Linked DNA regions of Homo sapiens: all the other regions are linked to region 1. The links come from fine-mapping of genetic effects on gene expression. A gene starts in region 1. Each other region holds a variant in brackets. All regions are shown on one strand. Distances are from middle to middle.

Region 1 (4,099 bases):
TGCCAGCTTGTCGGCTCCTGGGTTCCCCTGACGGAGGCTCCCAGGAGAGTGACTTTAGTTATCCTACCGACTGCACCAAAACTGTAGGAGCCTAGAGAAAAACTTTTCTGCATTCTGAGTTCACAGAAAATCAACTGACAAAAGCCAGGTTAGTAAGAAAAAAGGCATACAGATTTATTCATGCACACAGGGAGAACCAGAGTGATGACCCCAACCTCCCAATGGGGTTCGGAAGCTTATATACCATCTTGAGGTTACAGAAAGAACATGGGCTCAAAGTATGGCCACAGTTTATGGTGGAAAATCAGGTGACCAGTGGCAAGACCGGTTACAGGAGGGAGAGCAGAGGAGGCCTGGCTAGCAAAGGTGGCCTTGTTCTACAGATGAAACCTCACAGGTAGCAGCCCTGAGAGAGAACAGATGGTGAATGTTCCCTTCAGGCCTTTAAAGGCGTCAGACTGTTACTCTTCCCAGATCAGGCAAGGAGGGCCTCAGAGGAGGCCTGGCCGCATCAGTGTAGATTCTCTCCACAGATGCAAATCTCCCCCACAAAAGACAGCTTTTCAGCTATTCTTCTATTTCCAGTCCTTCTGAGTAACTGTCTTGAACCGTGTCAAGGAAATATATTTGGAGGTGACATATTGTGTTTTCCTTCAAGATCAAAAAGGTTAAGTCCAAGGCTGCCCAACGAGGGAGCGAGGACCCAATCACGTTGTCCTCAGATGAGTTTTTCCCCAGCAGCGTAACCCTGCAACAGGCCAGACTGGACCCCAGACACACATTCCACACCACACCACGCCTCCACCACCACACGCACACAACAGACACACCCTAAACACCAGACACACACACACACCTCAACCACCGCAAACACACATACGCCACACCTCTAACACCACACACACCCAACACCACACACATACGTGCCTCAAACACTACACACACCTCAACCACCATACACCTCAACCACACACACCCCTCAAACACCAAACACACCCCTCAACCACACACACACACCCCTCAAACACCACACACCCACCTCAAACACCACACACACATATCCCTCAAACACTACAAAAACACACACACACACCTCAAACACCACACATGCACACACACCTGAAACACCACACACCTGCCTCAAACACTCCACACACACCACACACAGACACGTACACAGCCCCCCGCACCCAGCCACAGCTTACACGCACACAGACACGCGTACGCAGGAGAAAGGGTGTCAAAGCTTTTGCTAGTCGTGAAGGAAGAGCCCGCAGTCCATGGGGCTGCACGGTTTTCCCTGCCATTTGCTCATTCACCGGGTGCCCATAACGCTCCGCGCTCAGGTCTCTTACAGGAGGGCCCGAGTCTCCCAGTACCGGAGGTCTGGGGGCGCACGAGCCGCTCCTCCTCTGGAGAAGCTCCGGACCGAGAGGACACCGGACACTGCGCAGCGCCGAGCCCCGCGCGCAGCCCGGGACGCCTCAGCCAGGGCCGACCGCGCAGAGGAAGCTCCCAGAGCCCGTTTCAAGACCGCAGCCAACAGCCTCAGGCGCACACGGCGGCCTCGGAGCGAGCACGCGCAGCAACGCCCCTCGCCCCGGCCCGCCCCCGGCCCCGCCCCCGGCCCCGCCCCCGGCCCCGCCCCGCAAGGGTCACAGGTCACGGGGCGGGGCCGAGGCGGAAGCGCCCGCAGCCCGGTACCGGCTCCTCCTGGGCTCCCTCTAGCGCCTTCCCCCCGGCCCGACTCCGCTGGTCAGCGCCAAGTGACTTACGCCCCCGACCCTGAGCCCGGACCGCTAGGCGAGGAGGATCAGATCTCCGCTCGAGAATCTGAAGGTGCCCTGGTCCTGGAGGAGTTCCGTCCCAGCCCGCGGTCTCCCGGTACTGTCGGGCCCCGGCCCTCTGGAGCTTCAGGAGGCGGCCGTCAGGGTCGGGGAGTATTTGGGTCCGGGGTCTCAGGGAAGGGCGGCGCCTGGGTCTGCGGTATCGGAAAGAGCCTGCTGGAGCCAAGTAGCCCTCCCTCTCTTGGGACAGACCCCTCGGTCCCATGTCCATGGGGGCACCGCGGTCCCTCCTCCTGGCCCTGGCTGCTGGCCTGGCCGTTGCCCGTCCGCCCAACATCGTGCTGATCTTTGCCGACGACCTCGGCTATGGGGACCTGGGCTGCTATGGGCACCCCAGCTCTACCACTCCCAACCTGGACCAGCTGGCGGCGGGAGGGCTGCGGTTCACAGACTTCTACGTGCCTGTGTCTCTGTGCACACCCTCTAGGTAAAGAGGGGGCCGCGCCTCTTCCCCGCCCCGACCCTCCATCCCTTTCCTCCCAATGGATTGCAGGGGGGCGGGAAAAACGTCTGTCTCTCTCTCTAGGGAAGGCCACATTTCTGTCTGTCTCAGGGACTCTGTGACTTGTCCCGCAGGGCCGCCCTCCTGACCGGCCGGCTCCCGGTTCGGATGGGCATGTACCCTGGCGTCCTGGTGCCCAGCTCCCGGGGGGGCCTGCCCCTGGAGGAGGTGACCGTGGCCGAAGTCCTGGCTGCCCGAGGCTACCTCACAGGAATGGCCGGCAAGTGGCACCTTGGGGTGGGGCCTGAGGGGGCCTTCCTGCCCCCCCATCAGGGCTTCCATCGATTTCTAGGCATCCCGTACTCCCACGACCAGGTAGGAACCACCCGGGCCCTCAGCCACCCTCCCACCTCCCAAAGTCCCCCAGCCCTTGATGCTCCCGCAGCCCCACCTGCCAGCCCAGCCCTCACGGCAGCTGCCCGCCTCAGGGCCCCTGCCAGAACCTGACCTGCTTCCCGCCGGCCACTCCTTGCGACGGTGGCTGTGACCAGGGCCTGGTCCCCATCCCACTGTTGGCCAACCTGTCCGTGGAGGCGCAGCCCCCCTGGCTGCCCGGACTAGAGGCCCGCTACATGGCTTTCGCCCATGACCTCATGGCCGACGCCCAGCGCCAGGATCGCCCCTTCTTCCTGTACTATGCCTCTCACGTAAGTGATCTTGGCCCAACCCCCTGGCTGCCCGTGACCCCTACCCAGTGCTAACTCCAGTCTTTGCCCCCAGCACACCCACTACCCTCAGTTCAGTGGGCAGAGCTTTGCAGAGCGTTCAGGCCGCGGGCCATTTGGGGACTCCCTGATGGAGCTGGATGCAGCTGTGGGGACCCTGATGACAGCCATAGGGGACCTGGGGCTGCTTGAAGAGACGCTGGTCATCTTCACTGCAGACAATGGGTATGCCAGCAGGGCAGCTGGGTGCTCCGGCCCTGTCACGGGCCAGGGCCCTGGAGGCCTTGCAGTTCAGCTGCTTGCCAAGAACATAGTGGGTGAGGGGGTGCCAGGAGATGCTGGCCACGTTGCAGGGGCCCAAGGTGTAGTCAGGAGACACAGTGCACAGAGAGCTGGTCTTGGTAGGCCTGGGAGGTGCCGGGCTCATGCTGGGCACCTCCGGGCAAGCTTTGTGACTTAGAGGTGTGGGGCCACTGGTCACCCTCGGTGGCTCAGAGGCTGTGGCTCCATGGCTCATGAGCGCCTCCTGTGTCCCAGACCTGAGACCATGCGTATGTCCCGAGGCGGCTGCTCCGGTCTCTTGCGGTGTGGAAAGGGAACGACCTACGAGGGCGGTGTCCGAGAGCCTGCCTTGGCCTTCTGGCCAGGTCATATCGCTCCCGGTCAGTCCGCAGGCCCTCTCCTTGGAACCCTGGCCCCACCACCCCAACCTTGATGGCGAACTGAGTGACTGACCAGCCTCCTGCCCCCAGGCGTGACCCACGAGCTGGCCAGCTCCCTGGACCTGCTGCCTACCCTGGCAGCCCTGGCTGGGGCCCCACTGCCCAATGTCACCTTGGATGGCTTTGACCTCAGCCCCCTGCTGCTGGGCACAGGCAAGGTAGGGCCGGTGACCCCTGATCCCAGATCCTTGGCCCCTGTCCTGGCCTTCCCCTGGGGTGAGTGTGGGCAGTGCCTGAGAGTCTGTGCCTCAGTGCCTCCTGCACTGAGTGGCATCCAAGTGGCGCCACCTCTCAGGTTCCTGGGTGGGCAAGAAGCGGTGCACGTCCAGGGCCTCCCACCAGGGCTGGCAGCCCCAGGTATGT
Region 2 (4,114 bases), 36 kb before region 1:
GTTCAAGAGCTGGACTTGGAGCAAATGCCCAGCTCAGCCACCAAATACCCAGGTGGCCTAGGAAAGCTTCCTAGCCTTCCTATGTCTCCGTGTGTGCTCAGCTAAGCTGGGGACTATAGTACAAACTGTTTCATTTCCTCATTCATTCTGGCCAGATGGCAGGCCTGGTTGAGATGCAAGGTGTCTGCCTTCAGAGGCTCACAGGTCAGTTCTCAGCCTCCTGGGCCATTGTGTGGACTAGATGAGGTACGTGTGTGTAAAATGCTTAGCACATGCCTAGTACCTGGTAAACACTCTAAATTTTATCATCATCAAAGCTAGTTCAGATTTTGGAGTGTATTCTGATGAGTGTGTTCTCCATATCTAGCAGCAAAACAGCAGCGTAAAGGGATGGCTGATCTTTGTTGTATATTCTTAGAAAGAGTGTTAAATTTAAAATACTGTTTTAACATTGAAATGTGGAATTAGCCGGCCAAGGTGGTTCACACCTGTAATCCCAGCACTTTGGGAAGCCAAGGTGAGCAGATCACTTGAGCTCAGAAGTTTAAGAACAACCTGAGCAACAAAGTGAGGCCCCGTCTCTACAAAATTACGGACATTTGCCAGACGTGGTGGCGCGTGCCTGTGGTCCCGGCTACTTGGGAGGCTGAGGCAGGAGGATCGCCTGAGCCTGGGTGGTCAAGGCTGCAGTGAGCCGAGATCACACCACTGCACTCCAGCCTGGGAGACAGAGCGAGACCCTGTCTCAAAGGAAAAAAAAACGTGAAATTAAAAGTGAGAAATATTTGTCTAGTTAATTTCACATTTAGGGTTCCGAGTATCTTTTCATTCAAGACGATGTGTTTTGCCTGTGTTTACCTCTCCACTCTCTCAAAGGCCACTGACAATTTAAGATCTATGTACCTATTTTTATTGTAGTGAAAAGCACATAACATGCAGTTCACCATCATAACCGTGTTTAAGGGTACAGCACAGGAGAGACAAAAAGAATGAATTCCCTGTTCTACTGATTTCCCCTTATCAGTGCTGCGCTTGACTAGTCTTATAAAATTAAAGATTTAAAAATTTTATATATATATATATATATTTTTTTTTTTTTTGATACAGAGTTTCATTCTGTCGCCCAGGCTGGAGTGCAATGGCACAATCTCGGCTCACTGCCACCTCTGCCTCCCAGGTTCAAGCAATTATCATACTTCAGCCTCCCTAGTAGCTGGGACTATAGGTATGCACCACCATGCCTGGCTAATTTTTGTAGTTTTAGTAGAGATGGGGTTTCACCATATTGGCCAGGCTGGTCTCGAACTCCTGGCCTCAAGTGATCCACCCACCTCGGCCTCCCAAATTGCTGGGATTACAGGCATGAGTCACCACACCTGGCCCTAGAACTATGTATATTTTTAAATAATAAATCCATCCTCATGTTAGAACCATCAAATGGGTTATGACTGGAATGACGCAGATGGGATCAGAGATGAAGAAGCCAACAAAAGCCAGAGAGTCGGCCATACCACAAGAAGGACGTCCGGGCTGCTGGGGAATGGCTTATTGGCCATTCACATAGCTTCTTTCGTGAAGTGTCTGTTCTAGTCTATTGCCATTTTTAAAAACTGAGTGGTTTGAGTTATTAAAATTTAGGAGCTCCTTATATAATCTGGATACAAGTTTTTTGTTGTTGTTGTTGTTTTGAGACGGAGTCTCCCCCTGTCGCCCGGGCTGGAGTGCAGTGGCGCGACCTCAGGTCACTGCAAGCTCCACCTCACGAGTTCCCGCCATTCTCCTGCCTCAGCCTCCCGAGTAGTTGGGACTACAGTGGCCCACCACCACACCCAGATAATTTTTTTGTATTTTTAGTAGAGATGGGGTTTCGCCGTGTTAGCCAGGATGGTCGTGATCTCCTGACCTCGTGATCCGCCCGCCTCGGCCTCCCAAAGTGCTGGGATTACAGGCGTGAGCCACCGCGCCTGGCCCTGGATACAAGTTTTTATAAGATATATGTATTGCAAAAGTTCTCTAATTTCTTGGCTTGCCGTTTCATTTTTGTAATAGCCTCTTTCAAAGAACAAAAGTCTTGCATTATTATAGAATTCA[A/G]TTTATCTTTTTTGTTTAATCGTTCTCATATTCTTTGGGTTCACTCTAAAAAATCTTTGCCTACCACAAGATCACAAAAATATTTTCCTGTGTTTTATAGTTTTATTTTATTTCTTTTTTTTAAGAGATGGGGGGCCAGGCGTGGTGGCTCATACCTGTAATTCCTGGGAGGCCAAGGCGCATGGATCACCTGCGGTCAGGAGTTGGAGACCAGCCTGGCTAACATGGCAAAATCCCGTCTCCACTAAAAATACAAAAATTAGGTGGGCACGTTGGCGCACGCCTGCGTTACAGCAGGAGGATTACTTGAACCCAGGAGGCAGAGGTTGCAGTGAGCCGAGATCACGCCACTGCGCTCCAGCCTGGGCTACAGAGCGAGAATTCGTCTCAAAAAAAAAGAGATGGGGGTCTCACCATGTTGCCCAGGCTGTGTAGTTTTAGCATTTACATTTAGGCCTGTCATTAATTTCAAGTTAATTTTTGTTTTTGGTATCAAGAAAAGGTAGCTGTTCATATTTTTTTGGGGGGAGCATGTCCAGTTGTTTCAGAACCATTTTTAAGATTTTTAAATTTAGTTTTTATTGTGGTAAAATATACATAACAAAATTTACCATTTTAACAATTTTTAAGTATACAATTTTGTGGCATTAAGTGAATTCGCCACCATCTCCAGGACATTTTCATCACCCCGTATTAAACTATACTCACTGAACAATAAGTCCTCCAGTCTCCTTTCCACCCAGCTCTTAGAACCACAGTTCTGCTTTCTGTCTCCATGTATTTGACTATTCTAGGGACCTCTCAGCACCATTTTTAAAAAGACTTCCTTTTCCACTGAATTGCCTTTGCACTTTTGTTGAAAATCAGTTGTCCACATATGTGTGGGTCTATTTCTGGACTCTGTCTCTATTCTTTTCCTTTGATCTATATTTATAACTTTCTTCAATTCCATACTGTTTAATTTCTGTAACTTTATAGTAAGTCTTGAAAGCAGATAAGTCCTGTAACTTTGTTCTTTTTTAATTTGTTGGTTATTCTAGGTCATTTTTATTTCTATATAAATTTTAGGATCAACTTGTCAATTTCTAACTCCCCAAGAAAGCCTGCTGGGAATTTGACTGGTATTGCACTGAATTTGTAAATATATTGAGAGAATAGACATCTTAATAATATTGAGTTTTCTATTATATGAACATAGTATATTTCCTCATGTATTTATTTGTTTATTTATTTTGTAGGGGCAGGGTCTTGCTTTATTGCCAAGGCTGGTCTCAAACTCCTGGCTTCAAGCAATCCTCCTGCCTCAGCCTCCCACATATTTTGGTCCTCTTTAATTTATCTCAGCAATGTTTAGTAGCTTTCAGTGTAGCATTCTTACACATTTTTGCTAAATCCATTCCTAAAAATTTTGTGTTATTTCATGTATTACAAATAAAAATTTTAATATAATTTTAATTTCATTTTCTAATTTTTTTTTTTGAGATGGAGTTTCACTCTTGTTGCCCAGGCTAGAGTACAATGGCATGATCTTGGCTCACTGCAACCTCTGCCCCCCGGGTTCAAGTGATTCTTCTGCCTCAGCCTCTCGAGTAGCTGGGATTACAGGCATCCGCCACCACACCGGTTAATTTTTTGTATTTTTAGTAGAGACAGGGTTTCACCATGTTGGCCAGGCTGGTCGTGAACTCTTGACAGGTGATCCACCTGCCTCGGCCTCCCAAAATGCTGGGATTACAGGCATGAGCCACCGTGCCCAGCCTCATTTTCTAATTGTTGATAGTATAGAAAATCACCTCTTTTTTTTTTTTTTTTTTTTTTTTTTGAGACAGGGTCTCACTCTGTTTCCCAGGATGGAGTGCAGTGGCATGATCTTGGCTCACTGCAGCCTTAACTTCCCAGGCTCAAGCTATCCTCCCACCTCAGTCTCCTGAGTAGCTAGGACTACAGGCACACACCACCATGCCCAGCTAATGTTTGTATTTTTAGTAGAGAAACACAAAATACACAGGTTTTCGCCATGTTG
Region 3 (4,114 bases), 84 kb before region 1:
CCACCCATCACTCAGGCTGCACCCAACCCCAAGCCCTTCTCCACTCTTTGGGGCTATGCCAACCCTAGAGGGACCACTGTCTGGCCACACTTGTCTTGGCACCTTTCACTCTTGTCTTGGCCCCTTGTTGGAGAATTTCAACGGTCAGACTGGACACCTCCTACTCCTTCCAACTCCAATCTGCAGCTGTTCACAGCACCTGCTGATTCTACCTCTGCAATCTGCTTAGCATTGCTGGAAGGAAGGAAGGAACTCCCCAAGCTTAGCATTGCTGGAAGGAAGGAACTCCCCAAGACTGTCCTGTACCCAACCCAGACCAGACCCACCCTGTACACTGACTCTGTCCTGACATAACCTCTTTGTGACCTCTGTGTCCTCATTGATAAAACAGGCATAAAAACAGTGCTCGCTCACGTGTCTCTAGTGAGAATTAGCACAGAAGAAAGGCTTACAACTGTGCTGGCACTGGACACAATTCAGTACAATTCATGTCTGTGTGCCCCATCTCCCCAGACAGCTTCCGGGTCTGCAGAACAGAGCAAATACTGTTCTCTGTGTTCCATCAGCGCCCAGCCTGTGTCCTGAACGATACAAGAGTTTACCAGCAAAACAGGCTCCAACTGCAGATATCTGGGCCTGTGCACAGCTCCCAGTGCCACCAGGTGACAGGGGCCCAGGTACAGACCAGGGGCTGCTGGTTTGAGGGGACTTCTCATTTGCTTTTGTCATGAAGTGAATGATTTCTTTTTGGGAGTTGAAGTCACCATTGCCACCATCTGTTAAGTTCTTGGTGATTTCTAGAGTATGCGGGACTTTATGCAAACCACTCCTCTCATCCCACAACTACACGAGGATTTTATCATCACCCTTATCCAACCCAGGAGCAAACTGAAGCGAAATTGCCATAAATCTCTGACTAGGAAGTAAGAGATGAGACTTAAGCACCATACTCCCCGGAAACTGCAGAAGTAAAGATATGAATGGAGAGAAAACTCCGTGAGGCACACACGGCTCAGCATCATGGGAGACACGTTGCCGCCTGAGCCACGGGCTAGGAGAGGCTGTCTCTCTAGGTCTGGAAGACCCATCCCAGAGACCCACAGCGGGACGCACATAACGTTTAGTGAGCAGCTGTTTCTGGTCATCCGGCGATGGTGCTGGAGCCGGGTGAGAAGTGTTTTCAAAAGGGAAAGGATTCATCAAGAATTCTGCAAATTACAAACTGATGAGGTTGACATAAATCTCCCCCCAATATTAGAGGATATATTCTTAAATAAATAATTTTAGATAATTAAGGGAAACAAAGCCCATCAGGAACCAAGTGGACCCGCTCACTCCCAGGGCCCTCTGGGTGCACAGCAGGACACAGCTGGGTTTGCAGCTGTTTGATCAACAGGGCCCCAGCCTGCGGGATGATCAACCAGCCATCACTTCTTCCACAACTGGAGCAGCACCTGGGCTGCAACACAGCACCCTGGGAGCCCCACTAACGAGCTAGAGGGCAGAGCCAGAAGATTCCAGAAATAGCTTGTATGTCTGCCCCAAAGGCATGCAGAAAAGGTCACTGGAGGAGACCTTGTCACCTGTTTTTAATACCTGAGAAGACACTGGGGAAGCCCTTCACCTGGGCTGGGGCAAGAGGCAGCAAGGGGACCTCAAGAGGGCTGGGCCAAGGGCCTGGCAGATGTGTCCTCACCCAGGGAAAGCCCAGTGGGTCGAGAGAGAGGGAGGGATGGGCATCAGGTACACGGACGTGGAGCAAATATACAGGCCTGGGTGGAGAAAGCCACCTCAAGCCTCTGTCTGGGCCCTGATTCCCATCCACCCGAGAGGCAGAGGAGGCTGCCGGAAGCCGGGTCCCAGGACTTCACCAGACAGTGGACCTCAGTACCCAGGCCCAGGTGACTG[T/C]CCCCACCTGAATGCGCCCTCCCCTGCAACCAGGCTGAACATAAAGGACATACAGGGAGCAGCCCCAAAGGGTAGAGGGAGGCCTGAACGGGGGTTCAGGAGGGTAGTCAACAGCCTGGGGTCTTTGGCCAGGGGAGCTCCAAGCTCCTTCCCCAGTGCTGTGGGACTCAGACCCCTGCTCTGAAGGGACCATCAGCTCTGGGCTTGGCCCTACAACCAACCAGCACGGGAGTAGGTCCCACAACCCAAGCACAGGCCCCGAGAGGACCAGCAGAAAGAAGCAACGTGCACGCCAACACGGCCCAGTCTCCCTGCTCCCTAGAGCTCCCCCTCTGGGACCCTCGGAGCCCTTTCCCTCCTGCTGTCCGGGCCATGGTGCATGCAGTGGCCTCCACGGGGCTCTCCCAGCTCCTCCCCACGGGCTGCCTCCATCAGGCTATCTGCACAGCTCACAGGCCCCAGGCTCACCTGAGCCCCCAAGGCCATCACAGTCTCAGAGGGTCACACCCCTGGGAACTCCCCATCCATCCTTGCAGGCCCTTCTCTCATGCCCCTACCAGATGCCCAGGGAGAAGGCCAACAGGAGGGTGCAGCCCAGGCTTCCAGGCCACCCTGACTTGCGCTGGAACCTCCTCACACACCAGCACTCCCCCAGACAGGGGTCAGGCAAAGCCAAGGCCCTGGGGACACAGGCAGATGACTCACCCCCTTTTCTTCTCCGAATGGAGGCTTGGAATCAAGAAACAGAGTAAAGGGAGTAAGAGGCAGGCTCGGCACCCGGGCCCCATTATCCACACTCATTTCCCCACCCCATCCCTCTCACCACCACCTCCCCCAAAAACCATGACCTCCCAAATCTGCCCCCAGCCTACACCTCTTTATCAGACCGTGAATAGCAAATCTGCCCAACTCTGGAGTCAGTTGGTACATGCCTTGAAAGCCAAGGAGGAAACAACCACAAGCAGGGACTTGTGTGTGTGTGCCACATGCATGCAGGTGCACACAGCGCATGTCCACTCACCCACGCACAGACATGTGTGCTGCATGCACGCAGGGGCACACAGCGCGTATCCGCTCACCCACGCACACACGTGTGCCACACGCATGCAGGCGCACACTGCATATCCGCTCACCCACGCACAGACGTGTGCCACACGCATGCAGGCGCACACAGCGCGTATCCGCTCACCCACGCACAGACGTGTGCTGCATGCACGCAGGTGCATACAGCGCGTATCCGCTCACCCACGCACACACGTGTGCCACACGCATGCAGGTGCACACAGCGCGTCTGCTCACCCACGCACAGACATGTGTGCCACACGCATGCAGGCGCACACAGTGCGTATCCGCTCACCCATGCACACACGTGTGCCACACGCATGCAGGTGCACACAGCACGTGTCCACTCACCCACGCACAGACATGTGTGCCGCATGCACGCAGGTGCAGACAGCGCGTGTCCGCTCACCAACGCACAGACACGCACACACACACAGATATGCACAACTCCATCATGCTTGGCTCAGTCAAACGTTTGTTCAGAAAAAAGGCAAAACCCCATAGAAAACAAGTTCAGGTGTCGCTGAAAATTAAGGTGGTCACCTCTGTGTTCTGTTCAAAGTCGGTCTTAAAAGGCAGGGCAAGTGTGTTTGGCACAGAAACCTTTTCCAGGACAAGGCCACTCACATAGATGCTGGGTGTGGCACCTACCCTGATGTTCTCATCACAAAAGAAAAAGGGGCCCAGAAATTACAGGGAAGTCCAGAGTTCTCCCGGGAACGTGAATACACAGGAAGGGCTTGGACCCGCCACAGGGCCTTCCCTGGCCTGGGTCTCCACTGACCTGTGGCCCCAGCACATTCCTGGTACAAACCGAGCAGACATGCATGTGGCGACCATGAGGAGCCCCCAGTGCTGAGGGGAGGAGGGGTGTTCTGCCCTCTTCTCTCTCTCACCACCTATCTCAGGAGGGTCCCCACCCAGCCCCTTCCTCTCACTCCCAGCTCTGCAACCCTCCATTTTCCAGGCACCAGCCTTTGCTCACCCCATTCCCCCACAGGATACCCCTTCCCTCCCCTTCCTCCAACAGGGCCATGCCTCTCCCACATCCTCCGAGCAGCAAACAGCCACCTGGACAGGAGCCTCCGACTTGCACCTGCTTTCTCTGACACCTCACTTTCTTTTCTTTTTAGGTGTCCAGGCA
Region 4 (4,114 bases), 29 kb after region 1:
GGGACGCGGCCGGGGACGCTGGTTGGAGGAGAGGCGGCGGCTTCACTGCCGGGCGCTGGTTGGGGAAGGGCCGGGCGTGCGATGAGGATTTTTCCCGGGGAGGGGCGGGAGGGAAGGGGCGGGCGGGTGGGCGTCGGGCCCCGCCCTGGAGGACCCGCGCGGGGCGGGAGGCCGAGGAGGCAGCGCCGGGGTCCGCGGGCCTCGGGTTCGCCGTGGGCTGTTTCCTCTGGGCGAGAGGCCGGGGCGGCCCCGGGAGCTGCGCCGCCGCGCCCAGGATCCCCCCAGGAACCCTAACCCGGGTGCGGCCCGGAGCGGGGTGGCGGGCGAGGCGGGAGGCGCGGGAGGAGCTGTCCGCCGTCGGGTGCTGATCGGAGCTGTCCCCACGGGGTGCTGACCGGGGCTGCACGGGGACGTCTGCACGAGGGTCGCCGAGCAGGGCTGGATTCAGAATCGAGCACAAGGTACTCAGAGGATGCTGGCTGGGGCTAAAAGTGGACTTTGAGCACTCAGTAGAGACTGCACAGCCGGACGGACGTACCGACGGGCACTGGGAGAAGTTAGCACCCACGGAGGCGACATGCGTCCCACTGGAAACACTTTTTCTTGGGCACCGTGTTGCTGGGCCCTGTGTAGGGAACTGACCCGCTCTGGCTTGGGATGGAGCCCTGTGGGGAGGGCCATGGTTGAAGCTGAGCTCGAGACGGTGGCTGTGGGAGGAGGCGGGAGATCAGGGTTGAGGGCGCAGAACTAGGGAGAGACTGCAGGACACTTTTTTTCTTTCTAAAATAGAGACCGGTGGCTGGGCGCGGTGGCTCACGCCTGCAATCCCACCACTTTGAGAGGCCAAGGCGGGTGGATCACGACGTCAAGAGATCGAGACCAGAGACCATCCTGGCCAACATGGTGAAACCCCGTCTTTACTAAAAATACAAAAAAATTAGCCGGGCGTGGTGGCGGGCGCCTGTAGTCCCGGCGACTTGGGAGGCTGAGCCAGGAGAATCATTTGAACCCGGGAAGCGGAGGTTGCAGTGAGACGAGATTGCGCCACTGCACTCCAGCCTGGCAAGAGCAAGACTCCGTCTCAAAAAAAAAAAAAGAGAGAGAGAGAGACCGGCTCTCTCTGTATTGCCCAGGTTGGTCTCAAACTCCTGGGCTCAGCTATCCTCTGGCCTCAGCCTCCCAAAGTGCTGGGATTACAGGTGTGAACCACAGCACCTGGCTAAATATTGGCTAAAGAAGGAGGCTGGCATTTCAACAAAAGCGCAATCCCTTTTCCCCCTTGATGAAAGTTATGTGCCCTAAGATTTCTTTATGTCTTAGTTCTGCGGAAAATTCTTTTTTTTTTTTTTTTTTTTTTTTTTTTTTTTTTTTTTGAGACAGAACTTGCTCTGTTGCCCAGGCTGGAGTGTAGTGGCACGATCTCAGCTCACTGTAACCTCCACCTCCCGGGTTCAACCGATTCTCGTGCCTCAGCCTCCCGAGTAGCTGGGATTACAGGCAATCACCACCATGTCCGGCTAATTTTTGTGTTTTTAGTAGAGATGGGTTTTTGCCATGTTGGCCAGGCTGGTCCCAAACTCCTGACCTCAGGTGATCTGCCCTCCTTGGCCTCCCAAAGTGCTGGGATTACAGGCGTGAGCCACCGCCCCTGGCCTGGAAAATTATTCCTTAGGAAAGGACAAGGCACTTGAGTGACAAACACCAGAAACGACATGGCAGAAGGAGCTCATGCAAGTCGGGAAGGGGGGTATCACCATTCCAGCTCAGAGAGAGGCCTGTGGCCAGGGCCTGATTGAACCTGCACTCTTTGGTGTCCCATCACAATTTATATTTTATGCCAATTACAGTATTTTTCTAAGAATGGCATTTACTTGGCTGGGCACAGTGACTTACACCTGTAATCCCAGTACTTTGGGAGGCCAAGGTGGGTGCGTCACTTGAGCTCAAGAGTTTGAAACCAGCCTGGAAACATGTCTCTACCAAAAATAAAAAAAATTGGCCGAGCCCAGGAGGCAAAGGTTGCAGTGAGCTGAGATCACACCACTGCATCCAACCTGGGGGGCAGAGTGAGATCCCATCTCAAAAAAAAAAAAAAA[G/AG]CCATTTACTAGTTTATGCTTGCCTTCTTGACTTGGGTTGGCTGGAGAGAAGAGAGGCTGTCATCTCTCTGTGAAGCCCTAGGCTCCAAGCATGGTGCCTGGCAAACAGTAGGTGCTTAGCAGACATGTGAATGAATGAATGAGAGAGCTTATGGTCTCTAACCCAGTCTGGGGCATCAGGTCTTTGCCATAACAGTCTTTTCCCTTTTAGAAGCACTAAGAACATTCCCCATTTCTGAGGGAGTCTGGGCCTATTAACCACTCCCTGCCTTTCCCAAAAAATCCAGATCCCTTCCCAGATTTCACAGAGAGTTTGACCTCAACTTTCCAGATTGGCTTTTGATCCTGAGTCTTTTCACCAAACTGGTTCATCTGGACATCCACATAAATGACCCATCCAATACCCTGGTCAGTCAGTTCCTTGATTTCTGATCTGTCAACAGTCTTTAATACTCAAGTGTAGTGACCTCTCCCACAAAGTGCCTCCAGGATCTACCTTCATCTGGAATTGCAGCAAGCTTAAAATCTTTTTTTTTTTTTTTTTTTTTGAGACAGGGTCTCACTCTGTCACCCAGGCTGGAGTGCAGTGGTGTGTCCCTAGCTCACTGTAGCCTCAAACTCCTGGGCTCAAGGAATCCCCCTGCCTCAGCCTTCTGAGTAGCTAGGACCACAGGTGCACACTACCATACCTGGCATTTTGTTTGTTTTTGTAAAAACAGGGTCTCACTATGTTACCCAGGTTGGTCTTAAACTCCTGGGCCCAAGCCCAGGTGATGGCCTCCCAGAGTGCTGAGATGACAGGCATGAGCCACAGCATCCAATCTGAAGTCTTATAGTCTCAAATTTCATCTTAGATCCTAATCCCCAAAACCTTCCTCAAGCCTCTCCCCTTCCTTCCCTCCCTCTTAAAAGATGGTCACTCCCAGGTCCCATGAGCGTAAAGACCATGAGATGGGGGATACCGCCCGCAATTTTATCTGTGGACCTCCCATCTTGCCCCCAGAGCACAGATGGAAGATCGTCGGCCTTAAAGTCTGAAATACGGGAGCCACTCTTCATTTTGCACCAACTTGTTGAACGTGGGCAAATTACTCAGTTCCTCGAGATCTTGGTTTCTTCCTCTGAGCAATGGTGCTGCGAGGACCACATGTCGTGGTGTAAGCCCCAGACACAGGCCCTGTTGTTTGTTGGTGATCATTTAAGGCTCACCTTTCCCCTGCTCCTCACACCGGGGACATGTCCTCCCAGTCCCCCAGGGCTGCTCTGTGCAGCTCAGGGATACATTAGTGAAAAGGCAGCAACTCTTTCCTGAGGGGGTTTATGCTCCTTACATCATGCACATTTTATCAAATTTGCACCTTCCTTGTGTGCTCCTCAGAGCATCATTGTATGGATGAACAAATGGGGGTCCACAGGGAGCTGAACATCCCTCCTTGAAGTTCCTCCTCCAGCCTCTGGGCCACAGGCACTGGGTTTTCCTTCCTGACCACCACCCGTTGTCAGCGTCCTTCCAGACTCCTTCTCCTTCAATGACAAATCAAGATGTTGTGACGCGACCATTTTAACGCTTTCTTCCCTCTATGGTGCACGAATGGCATAGACATTACAAAGCACAAAATTGATTGGACTTAGAAGGGAGAGTTGGAATCGCAACAGCTTCCACAGTCCTGACCACAGCAATTCTAAAAAGTCAGAGAACATTTTCTGACAACTTTCTGAGAGATTAGAAAACAAATGCAAACTATCAGTATTTATTGTACTCATATTTCACAGAAATCACAAACACAAAATAAATATGCCAATGGTTAAAACTGCAAACAGACACATTTAATAAAGATGAAAATTAAGAGTTCTACCTTCACCATGGTGAAGTCCTAACGCCACCATTTCCCGAATCTTCATTTTTATGCAGCCAGGTCTCTGATCACTACCTCCTACTTTTCTTGGTCTCTTGCTGCATTACTACAATACCCACTTTTTTTTTTTTTTGAGACAGGGTCTTGCTCTGTCACCCAGGC
Region 5 (4,114 bases), 20 kb after region 1:
CAGGGCCCGCCTCAAATGCCGCGTTCAAGTCATGATGGTAATAAGCGCCGACCCACAGATCTGGCTTCCTGCATTACTCAGGCACCATCCTCTGCCCTTTCCATTAACTCACAGAAGCCTCACAACAGCCCTCTGAGGTAGGGCCCTGATGGAGAGCTAGGCACAGAGGTTCAGGAGCTTGCCCAGGACACACAGGCAGGATGGGCAGCCCTGGGAGAAAAGGCTACAGTCTGTGATCCCAACACCAGACATCCTAATGCCAGATCCCAACACAGCACACCCCACGCTCTCCTGACCTACCACCACCGCCATGAAGAAACGAGTTCATCGTTCACCTCACACGGTTTCGTCCGTGCCTCCTCGTGGCAAGGGACCGGGGACGGGGGGTCTGGGGTGACAAATATTAGGAAGGTCTGGGCCAGGGCAGCAGCTCCTCCACCTCCTCCCACACCCCTGCCACATCTTGACTCCAAACCCCAAACTCGACTGACCACCTTCCTCTCACGAAATTCTAGCTGGGGCCCTGTCCAGCCTGAGACCTGAGCTTCACCCAGTTTCCTTCTGATGAGAAATTTGGGTCATTCTTCCTCTCCTGGCAGCGTCCGCTGTCCCAGTGACCCCAGAGCTGTCCCCACTGTCTGGTCTGCGCCCCGTCCGCTGTCCCAGTGACCCCAGAGCTGGCCCCACCGTCTGGTCTGCGCCCCGTCCGCTGTCCCGGTGACCCCAGAGCTGGCCCCACTGTCTGGTCTGCGCCCGTGCCCACTGTCCCACCTCTCCACCCCAGAGCTGTCCCTGCTGTCTGGTCTGCGCCCCTGCCCGCTGTCCCACCTCTCCACCCCAGAGCTGTCCCTGCTGTCTGGTCTGCGCCCCGTTCGCTGTCCCGGTGACCCCAGAGCTGGCCCCACTGTCTGGTCTGCGCCCCTGCCCACTGTCCCACCTCTCCACCCCAGAGCTGGCCCCGCTGTCTGGTCTGCGCCCCTGCCCGCTGTCCCACCTCTCCACCCCAGAGCTGTCCCTGCTGTCTGGTCTGCGCCCCGTTCGCTGTCCTGGTGACCCCAGAGCTGGCCCCACTGTCTGGTCTGCGCCCCTGCCCACTGTCCCACCTTTCCACCCCAGAGCTGGCCCCGCTGTCTGGTCTGCGCCCCTGCCCGCTGTCCCACCTCTCCACCCCAGAGCTGGCCCCGCAGTCTGGTCTGCATCGCTGCCCGCTGTCCCACCTCTCCACCCCACTGAGCAGCGTTTCCGCATGGATCCCATCAGACCATCTCTGCACTCGGCGGGGACAACACAAAAGGGCTCCGCACCTTCCAGCAGGCAGCACCCTCACTCTCGACCACAGGGAGAGTCCACAAGGCCCCCAAGATGCACTGACGTCTGTCCCACGCCTCAGTCCTGGCAGCACCGTGCCCTGCTGTGTCTTGCCTGTCTGTGAGCCTGCTTCCTCCAACTCCCCGCAAGTCCTTTCCAGCCTCTGGCTGGCTCTGCCTCTCTGGTTCCTCCCAGATCTCCTTCCTCTAGGGTGCTGGGACACAGAGGGCAGGGGCCTGTGCCTGGAGGGAAGCTGGCAGCCCCCCTTGGCCTGCTGCTCCTATGCCAGCACCTCCTCCTCCCCTCCTCCCCTCACCCTGCCTGGCCATTCCCCTCTCGTCTCAGTGATCTACCTGCTCTGACCTGGTATCTTCCCTCCAGGTCTCCCTCCTAAACTCCAGACCCATGGGACCAACGGCCACTTCAGTCTCACCGTTTGTGATTGATCCCGCATCCCCTCTCGGTGTGTGGGCTGCAGTACAACCATCCCCCAGGGAGACG[T/C]CACCCTGGTCTCTTCCAGGTCACCCTCTACAGCCGGTCAACCTAGGTCCTGCCTGTACTGCCTCTTCAGTGCCTCTTGCATCTGCACACTTGGTCTCAGGACATAGCACCTGTATAACCTCAGCAGCCCCCAGGTCCCCTGTGTCACCTCCTTCCATTAGGAGCCTTCTATGGCCTCATTACCAGCAAGATTAAGTACAGCTCCTTGGCATAATCAAAAGGGTCCAGGTCTTCCCCGGCATTTCTAGCTGCTCCCCTTACACGCGGGCCCCAGAGCCTATATAGCCCCCGACCAGTGCATCCCACACCCTTGGCTCAGCTAGACCCCACCAGGAAGATCCACTTCCCCACCGCTGTCACCTGCTGTGTTTCCAGGCTGGCCATCCTGAGCCCCAGGCCCACTCAGGCGTCCTCTGCACCCACACAGGCTTCTCACATCCTTCGCCCGTGTGCCTCTCTCCACCCAGACTGGATGCAAGCCTGTCTGACCCACGCCTCCTGAGTCCAGCTCAGAGCAGGCGCCACTGCAGGCTCAGCTCACAGAGCTAAGTGGGTGCAGGTGGAGCTCTCAGGGCTGGGCACGGGCAGCCCTCAGGGTCTGTGGGGACTCAGGGGGCGGTTGGACTCTCAGGGTTTGTGGGGGCGGTTGGGGGACTCGGGGACGGTCAGACTCTCACCAGCTGTTGCGGGGATGGCAGCCGCAGAAGGAGATGTTCTTCATCTGGAAGAAATGGCTGCAGCGCTGGAACTAGAGCAGAGGTGGGCAGAAGTCCCTGTGTCAAAGGAGGCCTGGCGCCACCCCTGCCTCCCACCTACTGGACACCCCTGCCAGCCTGGCCCCGTCGGACTCCGTGGCCTAACCCTATCCCCCAGTCCCCGGTCCCCAGTCCCCCACACTCCCACCTCGGGCCCTCCTCCGCTCAGACTCAGCTTGACCCCCCGAAGAGAGATCTCGAGGTCACAGGAGGCAGGAGGGCGCAGGTGGACGGTCAGTTTCCGGGCAGTGGCAATCTACAGAAGAAGTTGGGGGAGAAGAGGGTCTTGAGGAGCCCACAAGGGCCTTTCTTTCCCCTTGGTGGGACTACGCCTCTGCTCCTTTTAGCTTATGTTTGAGGACACACATGCTGAGGACCCTGAGATGCAATTCTGGAAGACATAAGGGGTGTGGCCTTGGCCACTCCTCAGGCTCAGGAGGAGCAATCGCCTCTCTGCAGTCAGCTTGCTTCATCTTCCTTCTGCTCCTCCAGGCAGGCTGCTGCGCTTGGCTCAGGAGCCAGGAACAGAGACCTCACCCGCCCTGGGCTGCTCTGCCCTGCTCCCTACTGCCCCCCAGCCTCAGCCTCAGTACTGGTGCCTGGGCAGGTGCTCACTAAACGTCCACTGAGTGAGTGGATGAGTAGAGGGCTCCCAGGGAAGGGGCTGTGAGGGCTGGTCTTGATTCCAGATGGGAAGAGGAAGGGCTGATGGCAGTCGGGGCCACCTGGAAGATCTGTGGCCCAGAGACCCAGAGGTGATGAGGGACAGCTGCTGTGCTCTGCCCTAGACTCACCTGCTCAGGCCTCTGAACCAGGGCCTGGGGTACCCACCCCGAGCTCCCCCTGCAGCATCCCCCAGACCCTCCCTGGAGGAAATCAGACCTCAGACCTTGGAGCCTCAAGCCCTGTGCCAGCCTGCAGTGCTGGTGTGGCCGCCAAGCGGACCCTCAGCCTGCACTTGCCCGGCCTCCACACTGACCTTCTGCATGGCTGCACACAGGATGCCGTTGCCCTGGTGGCAGGGCACCTCCACGGAGCCCAGGAACTGCACGTCAAAGCGCTCCACCCAGCAGGGGCTCCGCTTACTCCCTGGGGAGCGGGGCACAGAGGGCCCAGGTCAGGCAGGGGCACAGGGGAGGATCTGGGGTGAAAAGCCTCCCCTCGGGGTTGGGACCTCACCCAGCAGGTCCTTGGCAGGGCCGGGCACCGCATGGGCGTAGAAGGCAGGAAACACACCGCGCTCCCCCGTGCGCATGTTGAAGCCACGGAACCAGAAGTCGTCCTCCTCGGCCTCCACCAACACAGGGTCATCCACATCCAGCTCCAGCTCGTCTGGATGCCGCGGGATGAACCTGCCGTTGGGGGAGAGGTCACTGGGGAGGGGGGCGGGATTGACGGTCGTGTCCACTGGCGTTCCGTGATGGCAGGGACTGAGGCTGGGGCCACCGCCAGCAAGGAGGGAGGCCGTACCTGAACACAGCCCGGTGAGTCTGCTCTCGCTCCTCGCCGTTGACCAGACAGGAGAAAAGGCCAAAGGACTCGGTGCCTGG

The links.
Region 2: its variant is fine-mapped to the expression of ARSA in whole blood (INTERVAL, PIP 0.97).
Region 3: its variant is fine-mapped to the expression of ARSA in monocytes (TOPMed, PIP above 0.99).
Region 4: its variant is fine-mapped to the expression of ARSA in macrophages (Alasoo 2018, PIP 0.95).
Region 5: its variant is fine-mapped to the expression of ARSA in whole blood (INTERVAL, PIP above 0.99).

Annotation. Positions count from the first base shown.
Region 1 is chr22:50,625,731-50,629,829 of GRCh38, reverse strand. ARSA (arylsulfatase A) reads left to right here and starts at 1,678. Exons shown (of 8, transcript NM_000487.6): 1 at 1,678-2,274; 2 at 2,424-2,664; 3 at 2,778-2,996; 4 at 3,070-3,239; 5 at 3,552-3,676; 6 at 3,767-3,894. The coding sequence starts at 2,051. RefSeq lists a silencer at 1,594-1,783 and an enhancer at 2,718-3,500.
Region 2 is chr22:50,661,971-50,666,084 of GRCh38, reverse strand. No RefSeq gene overlaps it. Among named protein-coding and RNA genes, the nearest start is that of SHANK3, 8.8 kb to the left of the region's middle. The variant A/G (reference allele first, on the strand shown) is at 2,092.
Region 3 is chr22:50,710,138-50,714,251 of GRCh38, reverse strand. It overlaps SHANK3 (SH3 and multiple ankyrin repeat domains 3), which reads right to left. Exons shown (of 25, transcript NM_001372044.2): 21 at 2,614-2,637. Among named protein-coding and RNA genes, the nearest start is that of ACR, 26 kb to the left of the region's middle. The variant T/C (reference allele first, on the strand shown) is at 1,909.
Region 4 is chr22:50,596,534-50,600,647 of GRCh38, reverse strand. No RefSeq gene overlaps it. Among named protein-coding and RNA genes, the nearest start is that of MAPK8IP2, 2.2 kb to the left of the region's middle. RefSeq lists a silencer at 266-445. The variant G/AG (reference allele first, on the strand shown) is at 2,097.
Region 5 is chr22:50,605,364-50,609,477 of GRCh38, reverse strand. It overlaps MAPK8IP2 (mitogen-activated protein kinase 8 interacting protein 2), which reads right to left. Exons shown (of 12, transcript NM_012324.6): 6 at 4,035-4,110; 7 at 3,744-3,916; 8 at 3,544-3,653; 9 at 2,713-2,820; 10 at 2,487-2,557. Among named protein-coding and RNA genes, the nearest start is that of MAPK8IP2, 6.6 kb to the right of the region's middle. RefSeq lists an enhancer at 1-251. The variant T/C (reference allele first, on the strand shown) is at 1,810.